Homo sapiens: one gene and its partners. The protein of the gene in region 4 interacts with the protein of the main gene of each other region in a pairwise test. Each region holds a gene or a part of one and is shown on either strand. Other genes may lie near its edges. The genes, in order: TMEM201, B3GNT7, RNASE12 and GOLM2.

Evidence for each region.
Region 1: the proteins of GOLM2 (region 4) and TMEM201 interact in a two-hybrid assay, tested with the Homo sapiens proteins (one large-scale study listed by BioGRID).
Region 2: the proteins of GOLM2 (region 4) and B3GNT7 interact in a two-hybrid assay, tested with the Homo sapiens proteins (one large-scale study listed by BioGRID).
Region 3: the proteins of GOLM2 (region 4) and RNASE12 interact in a two-hybrid assay, tested with the Homo sapiens proteins (one large-scale study listed by BioGRID).

Annotation. Positions count from the first base shown.
Region 1 is NC_000001.11:9,594,563-9,599,790, forward strand, and holds part of TMEM201 (transmembrane protein 201), read left to right. Parts: intron 1-1,327; coding exon 1,328-1,448; intron 1,449-2,296; coding exon 2,297-2,491; intron 2,492-3,886; coding exon 3,887-4,063; intron 4,064-5,228. UniProt on the Homo sapiens protein: Critical regulator of angiogenesis and endothelial cell (EC) migration. Promotes the migration of endothelial cells, which is essential for angiogenesis.
Region 2 is NC_000002.12:231,393,391-231,399,184, forward strand, and holds the start of B3GNT7 (UDP-GlcNAc:betaGal beta-1,3-N-acetylglucosaminyltransferase 7), read left to right. Parts: upstream 1-2,319; 5' UTR 2,320-2,413; coding exon 2,414-2,424; intron 2,425-4,340; coding exon 4,341-5,535; 3' UTR 5,536-5,794.
Region 3 is NC_000014.9:20,588,786-20,593,661, forward strand, and holds RNASE12 (probable inactive ribonuclease-like protein 12 precursor), read right to left. Parts: upstream 2,592-4,876; 5' UTR 2,474-2,591; intron 1,977-2,473; 5' UTR 1,939-1,976; coding exon 1,495-1,938; 3' UTR 1,288-1,494; downstream 1-1,287. UniProt on the Homo sapiens protein: Does not exhibit any ribonuclease activity.
Region 4 is NC_000015.10:44,291,157-44,296,384, reverse strand, and holds part of GOLM2 (protein GOLM2), read right to left. Parts: intron 1-5,228.

The DNA of each region.
Region 1 (5,228 bases), on a different chromosome or scaffold from region 4:
GACAGGTGATCACACATCTCCCTTCATATGCCCCTGGTCAGGAGAAGGGGGTGGAGGGGAGGGCCGGGCAGCAGCAGTAGTGTCAGAAGCGGGAGCCCTGCTTCCCAGGGCCCAGCCTCCCCCTCAGGCCCCTGGCCAGCCCGATGGGTTAGCGACAGAGCTGGCTCTTTGCAGAGCACAGCACCTTTCTGTCTTGTGTCACTGCGTCCTTGCAGCATGCAGAAGCCGGGGGTGCTGTGGTTGCCCCCACTTCACAGATGTGGACACTGAGGCTGAGAGTACAGGAACTTCCTGGGGCTCCGTCCTCCTTTCTCTGAGCAGCGCCTCAGGATGAAAGGCCAGAGGGCCGTGCTCTCTGGTCCTGTGGACGGGGGGCCGTCTGTGCAGGGAGTGGCTGCCCACTCTGGCAGGGGCTCAAGCGGTGTCCTCGAGCTGGAGGTGGCCCCTGGGGGAGAGGTGGAGAGTCGGAGCAGCAAAGCCGGGGCCCCAGGGCTCCCACAGCTGCTGCCTGTCACCCACATTGTTCCTGGATTTCCGGAACTGGGGGGCTTTTTTGGGCAGTGGCGGTCTCTCTGCCCACCCCTCCCCAGTCCCCCAGTGTCCCACAACCAATGAGGTGGGTAGAGGGGGGCCCAGAGCATAGATCCCCCAGTGTCTGGGCTGGGATTATCCCGAGGCCCCACCTGTCACCACACGTGTAGCCAGCGAGGGCCACTGTCCTCTCCACCAGAGAGGGTTGGCCCCAGGCTGGGCAGCTGTCACTTGCTCCCTCCCCTCAGCCTCCTTGGCTCTCACATCCTGGGACTGTCTCTCTCTGGAGCACAGGAGGCCCCTTTCAATCTGGAGGCTCCCTGGGGCGCACCCTTTCTGCAGCCCAGGATCAAGGACCTCGTGGGGGAGGGGTGGTCCTCGAACCTGGTCCCAGTCAGCCCTGGTTTGGCCAGCCCTGGCCCCTGTTGTGCTCCATGTGTGAGCCCCAGGCCACCAGGAGCAGGTGGCCCTGGGTCCCCGTGCGGCCGCACTGGAGCCTAGGGATCTGCTGAGGCTCCAGCTGGCCTCCTCCCCTTGAAGACTGAGAAGCCCAGGTTGGCCGTGGCCTCCCTGTCTGGTCCTGGGTGGATGCAGCCGTACCTAGTCTGCGTTCCTCTCCTTCAGAGCCCTTGTTCCTCCTGCTGTTCTGGGGCCAGCATCTCCAGCTTTGCATCCCCAGATCCCAGATCCCACTCCCAGCACCCTTTCCCTGGTGGCCCTGGGGCAGGGCATGGAGGTCCCTCTCCAGCAGGTGCTGGGGTCTTCCAGGCCAACCCGCTCTTTCCTTGGTCCACAGGATGAAGCCAACGCACACGATGGTCAACTGCTGGTTCTGCAACCAGGATACGCTGGTGCCCTATGGGAACCGCAACTGCTGGGACTGTCCCCACTGCGAGCAGTACAACGGCTTCCAGGAGGTGTGGGTCACAGGCAGGCGGACGGGTGGGCACGCGGGGGTGGGGATCTTGAGATTTGCACCTTGAGACCACCCTGTGTCCCTGCCCTGCCCCGGGGCTCATGGACCCCACACCCTCATACCCTGTCCTCTCCAGGCCCTGAGCATGGTGTTTCGTGTACATTGTCTCACTCGATTCTCACCACTGCCCTGGCGCTGTCTCCTCACTTGAGGAGGAACCCGACGCAGGGAGCCATGGCAGTTTGTCCAAGGTTACACCACTAAAAGTGGCAGATTTGGGGTTCACACCCAGGTCTTTCTGGCTCTGCATCTCATTCTCTGTACTATATCAGGGCTAGCAAACCTTTTCTGCAAAGGGCCAGATAGTATTTTAAGCTTTGGAAGCCATTTGGTCTCTGTCACAACTGCTAACCCTGCTGAGCCACCGTAGGTAATACAAGAGTGAATTAGCCTGGCTGTGTTCCAATAAAACTTGATTGCAGAAACAGGCAGCTCCTCCACGGGTCATAGTGTGCTGTCCCCTGGACTAGACCAGGGTTTGCAGACTGAGTTCCGAGAGGGTAGGGCTCTGAGGACAGATGCTGGCTAGAGGTGTGTGGGTGGGCGGCGGGCTGCAGGCCCTGCTCTGTGCTCAGGCTAGGTGGCTTCACTCGGCATCTGGGCCTTTGGGTTCCATGGAGGTGTCTTGAGAAGAAAAGCAGCTGCTGTTGTGTGCAGAAGAAAAAAAAGAATGGAGATGTTTGAGATCTACCATCACTTGCCTGGAGCGGGGCGGGCCCCCAGGGACATCACCAAGCCTGAGCCAGCTGGGAGGGCCTGCCTGCCTCGAGTCCCACCTCTCTCCCGCAGAACGGCGACTACAACAAGCCGATCCCCGCCCAGTACTTGGAGCACCTGAACCACGTGGTGAGCAGCGCGCCCAGCCTGCGCGACCCTTCGCAGCCGCAGCAGTGGGTGAGCAGCCAAGTCCTGCTGTGCAAGAGGTGCAACCACCACCAGACCACCAAGATCAAGCAGCTGGCCGCCTTCGCTCCCCGCGAGGAGGTGAGGCCGGGTTGGGAGGGCAGGGGTCCTGGCTGGGGCCAGGGATGCTTAGAGCAGCCGGGGGACAGGCACGTGCAGGGTGCTGACTCTGGTCCTCTGGCCCCTGCTCTGCTAGACAGCGGCTTTTCTGTTCTGAGTGCCCAAAGGGGCCCCCTCATCCTTGCCACTGCCAGCACATTCCAGGATGTGTTAGTTCTTCTGACCCCGTTGGAGCTGAGCTGCTTCTCCCCATGTCTTACAGTCACTGCTATCGGGGTTCCAAGCCTAGGAACACCGTGGAAACCCCAGCACCTGCCAGTCCAGAGGAATTTGTCCCTGGGCAGAGGGAGGAAGGGACCTTGGGTTCCAGGTGGGGCCCTGTTGGACCCACTCTGTCCTGTTTCTCTGAATCAGCCTTGCCTGCTGGTGGCCCCGGCAGTCTGCTGTGGGGTTGGTGGAGGATGCCACTGGCTTCTGGGAGGAGGAGGAAGCTAGACATTGCTGAGAGGCTTGGCATTAAGGAGCTGGGCTGAGCTGGGAGCCTCACCTTGCCTGTGCCCTCCATGGAGTCCAAGAGCCTTGCTTACTGGCTGCTCCTTCCTGCCCTCGGCCAGCCCAGGGAGTCCTGTCACCTCAAGAGGCAGGTCCCAGCTGGGGCCCAGAGACACTGGCTTTCCTGGGGTCCAGCCTGGGAGGGAGGGAGAACAGAGGTGAACTCAGGCCAAGGCAGGGATGGGGAACCTGCGAGAAGGGGAAGGCAGGGGTGACTTGGCAGCCAGGCAGCTTTTCGGCATGCTTGGTCGCAGCAAGGGATCACACTCCTGACCCTCCTGGCCTTGCAGGCCAAAACGTTTGCTTCCTCAGAAACAGGGAGGGAGAGTTGCAGTGCTGCACGTCTAAGGGCTGAGAAGGAGGGGACTTGTCTTCTGGGCTATTTCAGAAGCTGAAAGAAACCTTCACCTGCCACAAAGACAGGCCTGGCCAGGGGCTCTCTAGCATTCAAGCGGAAGGGCAAGCGCCACAGTCGGGGTTGTCCATCTGCCCCACTCCAGGCAGTGTCAGCCCGCAGCCACCTTCCCCCATGTTCACCCACCTTCTTGGAGCTCTGCATCTGGGGAGCAGACCCTGAGCTCCTGGCCTGCGGGTGCGTCCCTGGAGCAACAGAACCTTGTTAGTGTCCCCATCACTTGTGGGCCCTGCCCTGGATTGGCTCTAACTCCCGGTAGTCCACATGGCTCTACACAGTGGGCATTTGTCCTGTTGGGCAGAGGGGAAGCAGGTTCAAAGTGGGGTTGACTTGCCCCCGGTCATCCCCTAGTAAGTGGCAGGTCAGGATCTGATTCCACGTCTGACCTGTAAGATGGAGGCAGCTCATCCACCCCTGCAGATGCCGAGCCTGTTCCCCCAACCCCACAGGGCAGGTATGACGAGGAGGTCGAGGTGTACCGGCATCACCTGGAGCAGATGTACAAGCTGTGCCGGCCGTGCCAAGCGGCTGTGGAGTACTACATCAAGCACCAGAACCGCCAGCTGCGCGCCCTGTTGCTCAGCCACCAGTTCAAGCGCCGGGAGGCCGACCAGACCCACGCACAGGTGAGAGGCGGCATCCACAGGGCGGGGGTGGGGGTGTTGAGTTTGTTCAGGAAACCCTCCCAGGAGGCTGGGCACTAGTGACCAGAGGGTAGCTCTTCAGAGCTGAGCCCCTTTATTTTTATTTTATTTTATTTTATTTTTGAGATAAAGTTTTGCTGGGATTACAGGCACACGCCACCACGCCTGGCTAATTTTGTATTTTTGGTAGAAACGGGGTTTCTCCGTGTTGTTCAGGCTGGTCTCGAACTCCCGATCTCTGGTGATCCGCCTGCCTTGGCCTCCCAAAGTTCTGGGATTACAGATGTGAGCCACTGCACCCGTCCTTTTTTTTTTTTAAACAGAGTCTTGCTCTGTCACCCAGGCTGGAGTGCAGTGGCACGATCTCGGCTCACTATAACCTTGCCTCCCAGGTTCAAGCGATTCTCCCGTCTCAGCCTCCCGAGTAGCTGGGATTACAGGCACCCGCCATCATGCCCAGTTAATTTTTATATTTTTGTAGAGGTGGGGTTTCACCATGTTGGCCAGACTTGTCTTGAACTCCTGACCTCAGGTGATCCTCCCACTTTGGCCTCCCAAAGTGCTGGGATTACAGGCGTGAGCCACCATGCCTAGCCTTTTATTTATTTTTAAATTTTATTTTTTGAGACAGTTTCACACTGTCGCCCAGGCTGGAGTGAAGTGGCGCGATCTCGGCTCACTGCAATCTCTTCCTCCCGGGTTCAAGCAATTTTCCTGCCTCAGCCTCCTGAGTAGCTGGGATTACAGGCACGCATCACCACAGCCGACTAATATTTATATTTTAGTAGAGACGAGGTTTCACCCTGTTGCTCAGGCTGGTCTTGAACTCTTGAACTCCTGACATCAAATGATCCACCCGCCTTGGCCTCCCAAAGTGCTGGGATTACAGGCCTGAGCCACCGCACCCGGCCTCCAAATAACTGTTTCCATCATTTTGTGAAGTTCTCACCAAAAATTCCTATTGTGAGGTTTTTTTGTTTGTTTTGTTTTGTTTTTTGAGACGGAGTCTCGCTCTGTCGCCCAGACTGGAGTGCAGTGGCGTGATCTCGGCTCACTGCAAGCTCCGCCTCCCGGGTTCACGCAATTCTCCTGCCTCAGCCTCCCAAGTAGCTGGGACTACAGGCACCTGGCTAATTTTTTGTATTTT
Region 2 (5,794 bases), on a different chromosome or scaffold from region 4:
CTGGCCCGGCTCCACACTCCCCACCCCCACCCCACCATCAGGGACTCGCATTTAATTGTCATTCATTTCCCCTCTCTGAATTCAAACTAGGCACAGATCAAATGATTCCATGATGACAAACTGCCTGTCTCAACTGACCAGATTCCACTGGCAAACACTCCGCTGACCTTGGGCAGCTCCCTCTGCTCCCACCTCCTCTGGCCCTTGTGCTTCTGGGGCTTTGTGGAGTAGCTGGACATCAATGATAACACTAACAGTAGCCGGCCTGCCACCAAGTTCTTTACATAGGGGATGCCTATGTCTGTGCTTCATTGGCGTCATCTCACAAGGCCCTGAGCTGGCAGGAAATTGAGGTCTCAAGGGGAAAAGCCACCTGCCCCCAGTGACAACCAGGAAGTGCAAGACTCTGACCCAACGCCCATGCCTGCCATCCCCAAACATGGGCTCAAAACCCCCTTCCCAGGGACGGCTGTGTCCACCCCTCAGCAGGAGGAGGAGACCCCACAGCACCGGGTGAGAGGTCAGTGCTGAAGCCAGGGAGGCAGCTCTCAGCAGGGCACCTGTGTGGAGCCAGGGAAGCCAGGGCCACACTTGCAGGGTGAAGTGGGGAACTCGGAAGGCTGGGCAGTGGAGCAAAATGCTTGGTGCCCTGCGGGAACCGGTGGCCAAGGCTACACTGGGATGAAGGGAGCCGTGGAGCTGCAGAATCTGCGGGTGGCCCTCAGTGGCAGGCAGCCAGGCCAACAGGGGCTTTGGGCTGCAGGTCAGCCCCTCCCCTGCTCTGGAACTTTTGGAGGGCCATTACAAAGGACATCAGCCCCAAGATACTCCTCTGAAATTCTGCCTGAAAGGCCCTTCACATTCCCTAATTGGCACTTACAACATTCCAGAACATTCTATGGTACCTTAAGTTTCTCCTCCCCCTCCAAAGGGCCCTTGAACCTTAAGGATAGGGCAGAAGGGGCTCCTCACCCTGGCCTCGAGGGCTTAAGATCCAGCTGAGGACTCCTAGCCTCCCTGTGTGCTGGGCAGGAAAGTAGCTCCATGTCACTGCTGTCCCTGGGAAAGGAAAAAAGGTTGAGGAAGGGCTCAGAGCCAGCCTTCAGACCAGGCAGGAAGGGTTCAGAGCCAGCCTTCAGGCCATGCAGGCCTCCTGGATGTGCTTACTAACTCTGGGCTCGCTGTTCTCTGAGCTGGCTGGGAGTTCCCCTCTGCACCCCCGTTTCCTCCCCTGTAAGGTGGGAATAATAGCGTATGTCTCTAGGATTAAGTGAGCCAGTCATGCATGGGCCGAGAACCAGGTTTGGCATATTGTAGCTGCTCAGTGGACGTTAGCTGTTATGATTGGACCACAACGTGCTTCCGTTTCAATTCTGTGGGCCTTTTGGAGGTCCTGCTGGATGCTAAGCACCGAAACCTCAACCCGGAACAAGACCAGAACAACCTGAGCAACAACAGGACCAGCGATGGCTCTCCCTGCTGGAGGATTCTGGAAGTCACCTGGCTGGACCAAGCCCTCTCCGTGTTCTCTGTCAGCCCACTCCCCAGAGCCGCTAGGCCTGATGTGCACAAGCAGACTAATAAAGGCTTGAGGACAAAAAGGGTTTTGAGTGATAAGTGAAAAAAGAAAGGAGATAGGGCTGGGCCAACAGGCCTTCCCTTGGTGGTGGGGAGCCCTCAGAGGTGGGAGGAACCCCAGAGGTGAAGAGAGGGACATGGTGGGGGCACAAAAAAAGCTTCCAGAGCCACAGGCCTGGGCGAGTCCTGACATGGAGCCCAGTCTCATACGGCCTCTTTCCCTAGTGGCTGGCTTTGCTCCTGGCCCTAGGTAGCCCAACAGCTGGGCAAGGGGTCCGTCTGGTCAGGGGAAAGGTGCAGGGGCAGAAGGTAGCAGAGGGAGAAAAGGACACCCTGTCTGCCTCTGGCCCCAAAGACAAGTCCGAATGGGGCCAGAGGGAAATGGCTGGGCCTTGGGGTGCCCCAGGGTCTTGGAGGGGACCGGGTGTTCAGGTTTCGCACAAGTACAGGAGGGACCGGCGACCGCCCTCCCCCCGCCCCGGGAGGCTCCGCCAGGGACAGGCGTCCCCGGGATTGGAGGTGACCCCCGTGGGTTCCGAAGCCCCGCCTCGGCCATGCACTGTCTACTAGGCGCGCTTGGGGAGCCTAGGGGCCGTCTCGGAGAAATGGGGTGGTCCCCGCCAGGCGGCGGCGGGGCGGGCCCTGGGCGCCGAAGGGGTTAAGGCACCTGGGCCACCGCCCCTGCCGGCCCCTCCTCCCGCGGCCGGGAAGAGGAAAGTCGCGGCGGGGGCGCGGCCCGGTCTCCGTCCCCACCCGCCCGCCGTCCCGCCGGCCCGAGCCGTGGCGCCCAGAGCTGCGAGCCGCTCGCCCCTCCGCCGCTCCGGCCCGGGCCGCCATGTCGCTGTGGTGAGTGGGGCTGGGGGCCGTCGGGGGCCTGGGCGGGGGCGTGGGCCCGGGGCTCCCCCTCCTCCGTGGCCACAGACGGGCGCCGGGACTCCCGGGATAGGAGATGCCCCCGCGCGCGCCGCGCCGGCCTCAGTTTCCCGGGGGCGGATGGGCGGGCGGGCGCGGCGGCGGCGGCGGGAGATGTTCGCGGTACGCGGCCCCGGACCCGTGGGGGACGTCGAGGGGTCTCGGGGCGCCGCGCTCAGCTCCCCGGCCCCGCGGCCCTGGACACCGCTCCAGGACCCTGGCGGCTGGGACCCCAGGTCTTGCCGGCAGCTGGGTCCCCTCTCCCTTCCAGACCCCTGAGGGCCCCCTGCGTCCGGGCCACTCTCCTCCTCTCGGGGCTTCCTTCCGCGGGACCTCGGACCGCCGCCCGCCCGGCCCCTCTCCGCCCCTCCCGGGCTTTCCCTACGAATGGAGCGGACCCGGCAGGTGGAGCGCCCGCAGCCCAGGGCCTCGCCGCCTTCCCGGTGCACCCCCCGACCTCCCCCGTCCCGGCCTCGGTGGGCGGCTTCCCTGGAACCCCTAGGGCTGGCAGGGCCGGATCCGGAGCCCTCCGTTTCCTCCCCGGAGAGCTGGACCTTGGGTCACACCCCCCAGCCTGCACCTAAGGTGCCCCTGTCTTCCTCCAACCACATGCCCCAGCAACCTGGGGACCCTATGGGGAAAATGTCGCTCTATGGGGCTCAGCCTGCATTCACCCTGGGGCCTGGACCTGCAACCGGACCAGCCCTCAGGGCAACCCAGGCGTCTCCACGGGCTGCCTGTCTCTCCTGGCACCCTGCTCCTCCCCCTTGGAGGTCAGCGCCATCTCTCTGCTAGGCTGGCCCTGGAAGGCCACTCTGCTGTCCCCAGAGCTCTCAGCCCCCAGGTCTCCACTGGGGAGGGTGGGGCAGGTGTCCTGGCAGCCCCCGGAGGGTGAGATGAAGAGAGGAGGTCCTTCAGGACAGGGGCTCAGGCCCCAGGGCTTGGGACGACCAGCACTCCTGGCAGAGAGCTCTAATTTCTGCTTCCGAAATGGGTGTGGACCGGGGTTGGGGTGGGGGGGTCTCTGGGCAAGAAGGGTCCCTCAAGGGCTGGAGCTGCAAATGTGCCCCCTCCCAGGGAGTAGAGCTGTAGCCTCATGTCTTCTAATGGGGTGTTATGAGCTGGGGATGTTAAGGTAGGGGTGAGGGGCAGTGCCATGCTAGAGGTGCTCACTGCATCCTTGGGCCTCCATCAACCATGAGGGCTGCTCTTTGTTGGGTGAGACAGACTGGAGAAGGGGGAGGAGGGCCAGTCTTCCTCAGGTCCCAAGCTCGAGCCACTCTCCAATGTGCCCCACATGTGATGGAGCTCCCGGGCGGCACAGAGGATCAGAGGGTGCCCTCTCAATGACTCTGGCTCTGAGTCACCTAATGATACCGATACCTACTGCTGTGGGTAGGTACACCGCAGGGAAATGAAAGGCATTGGGGTTCCAGGCGTGGGGAACAGGGCAGAGGTTTCCACCTGAGGCCCTCCTGTTAAGGTGACAGCATTCCCCTAACTGTGCACCCGCTGCCTGGTACTTTATATAGCACTCCAATCCTGTGTTTTAGCCCCATTTGGGGGAAGAAGAAATCGTGGCTCAGAGTGGTTGTAAACCACTCATTCAGCTTGTAAGCGTCAGGGCCTGATTCCACAGTGCTCCTTGAGGAGAGGGCAGGGTGGGAGAAAGAAAGGGCAGGGTGGGAGAGGAAGCGGGACCCTACCCTGACAGCTTAGGGACTCCGGGACTGAGCCTGTGCCCAGGTCCACTTGCCCGTCTGGGACCACCCAGCCTCCCAAGGGGGGCGCCAGGAGAGCCCTGGGCTCATCTTTTCTCTCTCCTCTGTACTGTCCGCTCTCCCCCACAGGAAGAAAACCGTCTACCGGAGTCTGTGCCTGGCCCTGGCCCTGCTCGTGGCCGTGACGGTGTTCCAACGCAGTCTCACCCCTGGTCAGTTTCTGCAGGAGCCTCCGCCACCCACCCTGGAGCCACAGAAGGCCCAGAAGCCAAATGGACAGCTGGTGAACCCCAACAACTTCTGGAAGAACCCGAAAGATGTGGCTGCGCCCACGCCCATGGCCTCTCAGGGGCCCCAGGCCTGGGACGTGACCACCACTAACTGCTCAGCCAATATCAACTTGACCCACCAGCCCTGGTTCCAGGTCCTGGAGCCGCAGTTCCGGCAGTTTCTCTTCTACCGCCACTGCCGCTACTTCCCCATGCTGCTGAACCACCCGGAGAAGTGCAGGGGCGATGTCTACCTGCTGGTGGTTGTCAAGTCGGTCATCACGCAGCACGACCGCCGCGAGGCCATCCGCCAGACCTGGGGCCGCGAGCGGCAGTCCGCGGGTGGGGGCCGAGGCGCCGTGCGCACCCTCTTCCTGCTGGGCACGGCCTCCAAGCAGGAGGAGCGCACGCACTACCAGCAGCTGCTGGCCTACGAAGACCGCCTCTACGGCGACATCCTGCAGTGGGGCTTTCTCGACACCTTCTTCAACCTGACCCTCAAGGAGATCCACTTCCTCAAGTGGCTGGACATCTACTGCCCCCACGTCCCCTTCATTTTCAAAGGCGACGATGACGTCTTCGTCAACCCCACCAACCTGCTAGAATTTCTGGCTGACCGGCAGCCACAGGAAAACCTGTTCGTGGGCGATGTCCTGCAGCACGCTCGGCCCATTCGCAGGAAAGACAACAAATACTACATCCCGGGGGCCCTGTACGGCAAGGCCAGCTATCCGCCGTATGCAGGCGGCGGTGGCTTCCTCATGGCCGGCAGCCTGGCCCGGCGCCTGCACCATGCCTGCGACACCCTGGAGCTCTACCCGATCGACGACGTCTTTCTGGGCATGTGCCTGGAGGTGCTGGGCGTGCAGCCCACGGCCCACGAGGGCTTCAAGACTTTCGGCATCTCCCGGAACCGCAACAGCCGCATGAACAAGGAGCCGTGCTTTTTCCGCGCCATGCTCGTGGTGCACAAGCTGCTGCCCCCTGAGCTGCTCGCCATGTGGGGGCTGGTGCACAGCAATCTCACCTGCTCCCGCAAGCTCCAGGTGCTCTGACCCCAGCCGGGCTACTAGGACAGGCCAGGGCACTTGCTCCTGAGCCCCCATGGTATTGGGGCTGGAGCCACAGTGCCCAGGCCTAGCCTTTGGTCCCCAAGGGGAGGTGGAGGGTTGAGGCCTACGTGCCACTGGGTGTGGTGGGGTGCAGGTAGCCAGAAAGGGACCTCCCTGTGTGGATAATTCTAGGAAACTGAGGCCCAGGAACGGTTGGAGCTGCCCAGTCTGGAGGCCCTCTCTGAGGAGCGAGGCGCCAGGC
Region 3 (4,876 bases), on a different chromosome or scaffold from region 4:
TATTTATTTATTTATTTTTGAGACAGAGTCTTGCTCTGTTGCCCAGGCTGGAGTGCAATGGCATGATCTCGGCTCACTGCAACCTCCACCTCCCAGGTTCAAGCGCTCCTCCTGTGTCAGCTTCCCAAGCAGCTGGGATTACAGGCGTGCACCACCACACCCAACTAACTTTTGTATTTTTAGTGGAGAGGAGGTTTCACCATGTTGGCCAGGCTGATCTCAAACTCCTGACCTCAAGTGTTCCACCTGCCTCAGCCTCCCAAAGTGCTGGGATTACAGGCATGAGCCACCACGCCTGGCCAGAAAATAAATTTAATGCAAAATAATCCCTGATGAACAAATGTTAAAATTTTAAATACCAGGATCTGGCCCTGCACTACGTTTCTCACATAACTCATCTTACCCTGATCCTAGCCTTGTCAGATTGGATCTTCAAAATTTTGTGATAGATATTTTGAGCATCCAAGATTTCTTTTTTTTTTTTTTTGAGACGGAGTCTCACTCTGCCGCCCCGGCTGGAGTGCAGTGGCGCGATCTCGGCTCACTGCAACTCCGCCTCCTGGGTTCACGCCATTCTCTTGCCTCAGCCTCCGGAGTAGCTGGGACTATAGGCGCCCGCCACCACGCCCGGCTAATTTTTTGTATTTTTAGTAGAGACAGGGTTTCACCGTGTTAGCCAGGATGGTCTCGATCTCCTGGCCTCGTGATCCACCCGCCTCGGCCTCCCAAAGTGGTGGGATTACAGGCGTGAGCCACCGCGCCCGGCGAGCATCCAAGATTTTTGCATTAATTTTGATTGTTTTAAAATACTGAAATCAAGGCCAGGTACAGTGGCTCACGCCTGTTATCCCAGCACTTTGAGAGGCTGAGGTGGGCAGATCACCTGAGGTCAGGAGTTTGAGACCAGCCTGACCAACATGGAGAAACCTCATCTCTACTAAAAATACAAAAATCAGCCGGGCGCGGTGGCACATGCCTGTAATCCCAGCTACTTGGGAGGCTGAGGAAGGAGAATCACTTGAACCCGGGAAGCAGAGGTTGCAGTGAGCCGAGATCGTGCCATTGCACCCCAGCCTGGATAACAAGAGCAAAACTCCGTCTCAAAAAAAGAAAAAGGAAACACTGAAATCAAATATATTCATCTAGGTTACTAGGTTTTTGGTCTTCTGGTGCCCTCTTAAGTTTTGCACCTCAAGTGAGTGGCTCATTCCCTTTATCTTAATCTCAGTCCTGTTTCTCATCAAAGGACCTAGAGATAAGGGACAAAAAATGGAAACACATGTAGAATTTATGGTTTAATTCAGTAAAGATTATTTTATTGAAGCAGAATAAAACAATCCCAACCCAGCAATACAGGAAGGATAAATTAATTACCAGTGGCTTCCCCTTCCGCTCAAGGCATTGCCCCATGTCCACGGTCCAGGTCTGCCTCAGGCACAGCCAGCTCCAATGCCATTGAGAGAAGAGATCTCAGACTCGGGAGCTGATCTTGAGTTATTTAACATAGCCAAGGAAACTATCTGGCCTCAAGTCATCACAAGTGACAAGAACAAACCCCTCTGTGGGGGAATAGTGGTACCTGCAGGCAGGGTATCTTGTGCCTTCAATGAGCTGACAGACTGTCATTTTGAACTTTGTCTCACTCTGAAAGCAGAAAATGGCCGAAAGGTTTTGGCAAGCAACCTTCTTGGGAGAAATGCAAATACCATTGATTTTTCGAGGCCTCTCATGGATGAAGACATGCTCCTTTTTACAAGTGTGGTCAGGTTCCCTGATAACTCTTTGTATGATCATGTGGTTGCAGTACCTTGCAGGAACGGGAACGTCATTCTGAGGGTAGTCCACATGCAAGTGTTCTAAAGTTGACATCACTGCTTCATCATTCACCTCATTTTCCCAGAACAGAAGCACCAAGAAAATTATCACCATTATTATCATCAGAGGTAAGAGTGACTTCGCATCTTTGGCTTTGACTGCTGTTGAGTAAGGGAAGATAGAAAGTAGCAAAGGACAGTCAGATTCCTCCTGCTCCAACCCCTGGCTGCTCCCCCATCCTTGGAATATTTTATTTCCTTCTCTCCACTAATTAAAATCACACTGACCTTGCAAGATCCAGCTGGAGGCATAGTTCCCCAAGAAAGCCTTTTCTGAACATGCCAGCTCTCAGAGTTTGGTACTGAGCTGTTCTCTAAATTATTCCTGTTGTGTTTGTTTTGTTCTACAAGTTCTTTGACAGCAGATACCACATCTCCTATTTCTCAAATCCTTCGAAGTGCTCAACACAGAGCTAGACATATAGAAAGTGGTCAAGGTTATTCATATTGCTGAATAACCTTCTTTCCCGTAATTTTCTCAACCTTAAATCCACCCAATTGCACATGATTTTAGTACCTTCTACTCATCTATTCTTCCCAATTCCTTCCAAGTCCCTCCCTCTGTCAATCCTGCTTGGCTCTGTGCTAGCTCCTCTCACCTGTCATTTTTCTGGTCACTGTCACAGGTAACATAGCCTTTTGATCATGAATTTGACAAAATCGCTTGTGTCTTGCTGTTCCCTGACAATAACTGATAGAGAGCCTGTTGTTGAATGTGGGGAGGGCCAAAGTAGAAAGAGCAGAAAGGAGGGACCCGCACAGGGTGTGCTTGGGCACCGCTGGGGAGGAAGAGAAGTTACCTCCAGCAGGACAGTCGGGTAAGGCAGGTCCTGAATGTGTCCTCATTAAACAAGTGAGGACTTTTCAGAACATTTAGTGAAGGCCAATGTGTGCCAGCCACAGTACTGTCTCCTTTCTAAATTTTCAATCAGTCCTTATGACAAATACATGAAATTTTTCATTTCATTGACAAATAAATGAGTTGTAGAAAAGGTTAAGGTGGAGATGGGAAGTGAGAAGGAAAGCAAGAGTCCCATCCTTTCAGTGCCAAACACTCGAATTCCAGTTTTAGCGAGTTTCATTTCCACCCGGCGTCCAGCACAGGACAAAAACAATTCCCTTGTAATAACGTTAATCTTGATAAAGCCCTGGGCTTCTGAGGAGTATGGAGACAGTTCCCAAACTGCTGAACGTTGGAATCAACGGGAGATTTAAAAAAGTATTGGCTTCCACCTTGATACATTCTGCTTTAACTGATATTGTGTGCGATCTGGGTTGGGGATTCTTAAAGGATCCCCACGTGATTCTAATATATAGCAAAAGTTATAAGGGGAACCACTGAACCATGGTATACATGGGAAACCCACATGGGAGATTAGTGGATAAAGGCTTAGCTAAAACACAGTGGTTCAAAGTATTGAGACCAGAGAATTATTTTTGTTGCTATCATCTCCCAGTTAGTTGATATAGGAACGGGCAAATGGACTTAGTTTTACTACTTCATGCCCTGAAGTCATTTCTCTTTTGGAGCGACAGGTACAAAATCTCCTCTGTGCATATCTGTGTCTTTCTAATTGGCAGGAAGAAAATAATCGCAGCGTAAAAAATTATCTAGGAAAAACAGAATCCTGGAGAAGCCTTCAAAGAATGCTTTTCTTTCTATACAAAAACGAAAGCAAAATTTCAAATTGTGAAAATGAGCAACCAGGAGAATATATTTACTTCCAGAAATGTCCATTCTGGGTGCCCTTTCAGAATTCAGACTATCCTGTTTTGGATATGTGTTACCCAATGCCACAAAGATATAAGTGCATGCTTAATTTTTGACATGATTTTCAATTAACAAAATTTGATTTTGTACATCTTGCAGAAACATTTCCAATGTATACAGAGAATTATATCTATGTACTGTAACATGTTCATTATTTCCTGCCAGAACTTCCAAGTAGCTGAAGTACAGATAATTTACTAAGTGTACAGGCAGAGAAGTAATCCCCGTTACAAAGATTTTCCCCAAAGGAGGCAACTAAACCTATCCCTAGGGTATCACACTGCAAAAGGAGTTGAGACTGAGTCCAAATGTTAACTAGTGTGGCAGCCTGGAAGAAAATATTTGTAATGCCTAAAACCACATTTGTGGTTTTAGATTTATATGTAGATTAGCATCTACATATAAGAAACTCCTTCATGTCAGCCCTAAAAAGACAGGAAACCCCAGGGGAAAAAAAAAATAGTCAAGGAAAAGCCAATTTCAGAAGATAAAGCCAAAATGGGTAATGAGCAATGCTCCACTTCATTAGTAATTAAAGAAATGAAAGCTTGAAATAACAAAGAAATAGTTTATAACCATCAGATTATCAAAAATGATTATCAAGAATTGGAAAAACAGATCATATCAACTGCTGGTAAAAACATTGCTGGGCATAAAAATAGATGTGGCAATACTAGAAAGGAATCTGGAAACGTTTGGTAAGATTAAGGGTTTGACCTGAGACCTTTTAATCCCACTCCTGGGTGTAGAATCTAACAAAATGCCACAGTATTTCTTCTGCATCAAATTAAAACTAATTCAGAATGGGCGCAGTAGCTAATGCCTGTAATCCCAGTACTTTGGGAGGCAGAGGCCGGCAGATCAATTAAGGGCAGGAGTTTGAGACCAGCCTGGGCAACATGGTGAAACCCCTTCTCTATAAAAACACAAAAATTAGTGGGGTGTGGTGGTGCACGCCTGTAGTCCCAGCTACTTGGGAGGCTGAGGTGGGAGGATCACCTGAACCCAGGAAGTAGAGACTGCAGTGAGCAGAGATTGTGCCACTGCACTCCAGCCTGGGTGACAGAGTGAGATTCCATCCCCCACCAAAAAAAAAAAAAAAAATTAAAACTAATTCTGAGTCTTTTGACTTAGAATTAATTTTCCTTGGGGAGAATTTCAACTCATGCCATTATAAAGTTCCCTTTTCCTCCCCAGATTTCCAGGGGAATCTGGACAGCATATTGTTCTT
Region 4 (5,228 bases):
CAAAACTGATGTGTGTGTATGTGTGTGTATGTGTGTAATAAAACGACAATTTTGAGGACTTTTTCTACATTCTAACAGCTCCTTTTATTTATCAAGAGCTTGACGTGCCACAGCTGGACCACATAGCTTTAGTATGAGCTACAGTTTGCAAGAATCCAAGTTTAGGAGCCAAGCACAGTGGTGCACACCTGTAGTTTCAGCTACTCAGAAGGCTTAAACAGGAGGACCTTCACTTGAGACCAGGAGTTCCTGGCTGTGGTGTGCTATGATCACACCTATGAATAGCTACTGCATTCTAGCCTGGGCAATGTAGTAAGACCCCATCTCTTTAAAAGACAAAGAGAGAGAGAATAATAATCAAAGTTAAGAGACATGCCCTGTACTGAGGAAAGAGAAATAAGGACTTTTCTGATAAAAGAGGAAATAAAAGGGTGTCTGTGTGTGTGTGTGTGTGTGTGTGTGTGTGTATGTGTGGTGGATCTCCCTTGTTCTAAGATGAACTGTGTTTCCCCCAAATTCACATGTTGAAGTCCCAGCCTCCAGGATCTCAGAATGTAACTGTATTTGGAGACAAGGTCTTTAAAGTGCTTAAGTTACAGTGGGTCTAATCCAATATGACTCGTATCCTTTTAAGAAGAGGAAAAGACACCAAGGATGTGTGCATACAGAGGGACTATCATGTCACAATAAAGCAGCAAGAAGGTTGCCATCTGCAAGCCAAGGAGAGAAGTTCAGAGAAAAACAACCCTGCTGGCACCTTGGTCTTAGACTTCCAACCTTCAAAAATGTGAGAAAATAAATTTCTGCTGTTTAAGCCACCTAGTCTGTGGCATTTTGTTATGGCAGCCCTAGCAAACTAATACACCCCTCCAGGCTGAAACCCTTTAGAGGGAAGTTTAAAAAATCAGAAAGTTTGAGGGAATCTCAGAGAAGTGGGGGTTGTTTCTCACTTCTTTGGACAAGACAGGAGCAACTTAAAGCTCCCTTAAAGAATTTCCATGTTCAAGGCCGGATGTGGTGGGTCATGCCTGTAATCCAGCACTTTGGGAGGCCAAGGTGGGCAGATCACTTGAGGTCAGGAGTTAAAGACCAGCCTGGCCAACATGGTGAAACCCTGTCTCTACTAAAAAATCAAAAATTAGCCAGGCATGGTGGCATGCACCTGTAGTCTCAGCTACTCAGGAGGATGAGGCAGGAGAATCACTTCAGCCCGGCGGGTGGAGGTTGAAGTGAGCTGAGACTGCGCCACTGCGCTCCAGCCTGGGTGACAGAGTGAGGCTCCATCTCAGAAAAAAAAAAAAAAAGGAATTTATGTGTTTAGTAACCCAGGTAACAGACTGGAAGTGACAGAATGGCATAATAATGTGAAAGAAACCAAATATCACCTTTCTGATTCCTCTGGAGAAAGGATTCCTTGATTTCCAAAGATAACCTTATAGTAGCAACGAGCATATCTGCCAAGCAGACCTTGGTTTCTTTTTTTTTTTTTGTGAGACAGAGTCTTACTCTGTTGCCCAGGCTGGAGTGCAGTGGCACAATCTTGGCTCACTGCAACCTCTGCTTCCCAGTTCAAACGATACTCCTCCCAAGTAGCTGGGATTACAGGCGCCCCCCACCATGCCCGGTTAATTTTTGTTTTTTTTTGTGGTGGTGGTGTTTTTTTTTTTTTTTTTGAGATGGAGTCTCGCTGTCCTCCAGGCTGGAGTGCAATGGCGTGATCTCAGCTCACTGCAACCTCTGCCTGCCGGGTTCAAGCAATTCTCCTGCCTCAGCCTCCCAAGTAGCTGGGACTACAGGTGCGCACCACCATACCCGACTAATTTTTTGTATTTTTAGTAGAGACGGAGTTTCACCATGCTAGCCAGGCTGGTCTCGAACTCCTGACCTTGTGATCTGCCCACCTCGGCCTCCCAAAGTGCTGGGATTACAGGCGTGAGCCACCGTGTCTGGCCCAATTTTTGTATTTTTAAGTAGAGATGGGGTTTCACCATGTTAGTCAGGGTGGTCTTGAACTCCTGACCTCAAGAAATCCACTAGCCTCAGCCTCCCAAAGTGTTGGGACTACAGGCGTGAGCCACCGTGCCCAGCTGCAGACCTTGGTTTCTAATGCCATTCTCCAATAAAAGGAACCAAGGTTCCTTGGAGAAATGGTTGACTCTAGGGCTGGAGTAGGAAACGTATAGATAGGCCTAGAGCATCTAAAAGTACCAAAAAGTAAGAAAGGGGTATGTCACAATGAAACTGGGTGTAGGGTATGTGGAAATTCTCTGTACTTTCTGGCACTATAAAAGTAAGAAGGGGATACAGGAGTTAATGAAGGAGCTCTCCAACAGCCAGAGCCAGAACAATTTGAGCAACAAAAAAATAAACTAATATTGGATTATAAGCCAAAGTACAAAATAAATATCCATGAGTCCATACCGATACAAGTAAATTATTAAGTTAATAAATGAGGGAGAAGAGACAAATCTCCTTTGCAGAAGAATTCCATATAGTTTATGTTGATACTCTGTCCTTAAGGAGGAAAAACATAACTACCCACTCATTAAGTGAGGGTGAACATACTTTCTTCCAAAGTGTACAGTATGGAAACAGATTTTTTTTAAGAGTACATTATAGTGGAGAAACCTGACAAGCACTATCTCACGCCAGGTGATAGAGGTTAACATAAGTAGTGATAAATCATTTTGAAAAACATACCCATGTTATGATGTGTTGAGATTGGTACTTTACTTCTGTGGTCTTTGTCCGAAAACCCACAACTCCAGTCTAATCCTGAGAAAAGACTCAGACAATTCCCAATTGAGGGACATTCTATATAAAACACCTAATCAGTAATCCTTAAAATTGTCAAGATTATCAAAAACAAGAAAAGGTCTAAAAAACAAGGAAAGGCTGAAAAGAAGCTTCAGAAGACATAATGTCTAAATGTAACGTAACTCTGGATGAGATCCTGGAATTAAAAAAGGACAGCAGGCGAAAACTGAAGAAATCTGAATAAAGTACGGACTTTCATAATAAGATATCAATACTGGTTCATTAATTGTGACAAATGCATCATACTTATGTTAAGATGTTAATAATAGGGAAGACTGGGTGTGGGGTATATAAAAACTCCCTGTACTATCTTTGCAATAATTTTCCAGATCTAAAACTGTTAAGTGGCCAGGTATGGTAGCTCACACCTGGCACTTTAGAAGGCCAAGGCAGGAGGATCACTTGTTTAGTTTTCCAGATCTAATTTTCCAATAATTTTCCAGATCTAAAACTGTTAAGTGGCCAAGTATGGTGGCTCACACCCAGCACTTTAGAAGGCCAAGGCAGGAGGATCACTTCAGGCCAGGAACTGGAGACCAGCCTGGACAAGATAATAAGACCCTCATCTCTACCAAAAAATAAAAAATTAGACCATCATGGTGGCATGCACCTATAGTCCCAGCTACTTGGGAGGCCGAGGTGGGAGGATCGCTTGAGCCCAGGAGTTTGAGGCTGTAGTAAACTATGATCGCACCACTGCTCTCCAGCCTGGGTGACAGAGCAAGACCCTGTCTCAAAACAAACAAACAACAATAACAATAAAAAAAACCCTGAAAAACTGTTAAGTTTAAAATACAGAGACCAAGACTACCCTTTCTACTAAGCAGCTCAGAGAGTCCTCATTAACCCCAAGAACAGACATTCACAAGCAGCCCAAGAAAGTTGTTATAGCCAGCTCAAAATACAGAAGTGGCACACCAAGTGCTGTGGCACACACCTAGAATCCCAGCACTTTGTGAGCCCAAGGCAAGATCACTTGGAGCCAGGAGTTTGAAAGCAGCCTGGGCAACATAGCAACACCCTATCTCTACAAAACTAAAAAAAGAAAAAACTTTTAAAAATATACAGAACTAGCCGGGTGCGGTGGCTCACGCCTGTAATCTCAGCACTTTGGGAGGCCAAGGCTGGTGGATCACGAGGTCAGGAGATCGAGACCATCTTGGCTAACATGGTGAAACCCCATCTCTACTAAAAATACAAAAAATTAGCCGGGCATGGAGGTGGGCGCCTGTAGTCCCAGCTACTCAGGAGGCTGAAGCAGAGAATGGCGTGAACCCAGGAGGCGGAGCTTGCAGTGAGCCGAGATCACACCACTGTACTCCAGCCTGCTTAACCGAGCGAGACTCTGTCTAAAAAAAAAAAAAAATATATATATATATATATGTATGTATACACATATACACACACAGAACTGACATTCAATAAGAGATACAGTCTTGTGAGCCAGCTGCATAAAATATTAGCCAAACACTTAAAAGTAGTTAAGATACCCAGGGCAATATTTCCCAAACTAGTGGGCTTTGCTATATTATTCTGTGCCATAATAGGTAGGCCATGAAAATAGTAACCTGTGATCAAATAAACTAAACAAGACTGAGTTAAACAAAATTGAATAGCCTTCTTTATTAATGGATTTCTCAGAGCTTTTATATTCCAGCAGGCATTATGAATTCCAAGAGGAGGATACACTAACATTTCCCTCCAAAAAAGGTTTTCATTTTTTTCTCCTCACCACCTAAGAAATATTACAAGAAGGGTATTCTGTTTAACACTACTTTGGGGAATACTGCTCTTATGGGAGAGCAAAGGCTCAATAACAGAGTCCCTTACTAGGTGACTGGAAAGAAAAAATAAATCCAGCAAAGAATATAGTGAAGAAGATAAGACTGGAGAGTCCAGTATAACAGAAGCAAGAAAGAAAATAGTTTCCAAATAGCTAGAGACAATCAACAGGATCAAACTACTGGGAGGTCAAATACAGTAAGAATAAAAATATTCTTTGGTTTTGACTAGGAAGACTGCCATTTGTGACCTTCAAGAGAATAGTTTCAAAAAAGGGGAGGAAAGAAAGATGGCAGACATTTTAAGATTAGGATGGTTATGAAAAAATAGGTAGATGGAACATTTGTAGACCATCAATAATTTGACTTTAGCAATGAAAGTGAAAAAACAAATGGGTTGGTTGGGAGAAAGGAATATACAGATTTTTTTTCCTTTACTGAGAACAGGGGACACCCACATACTGTTGAAGGTAAAAAGTGAAACAAACTGAAAGAGACAGTTCAGTAGAGCTGGGCAAGGTGGTGCACACCTGCAGTCCCAGCTACTCAGAGGCTGAAGCAGGAGGATCACTTGAGCTCAGGATTTCAATGCTATAGTGCATCATGCCTGTGTAACAGCTACTGCACTCC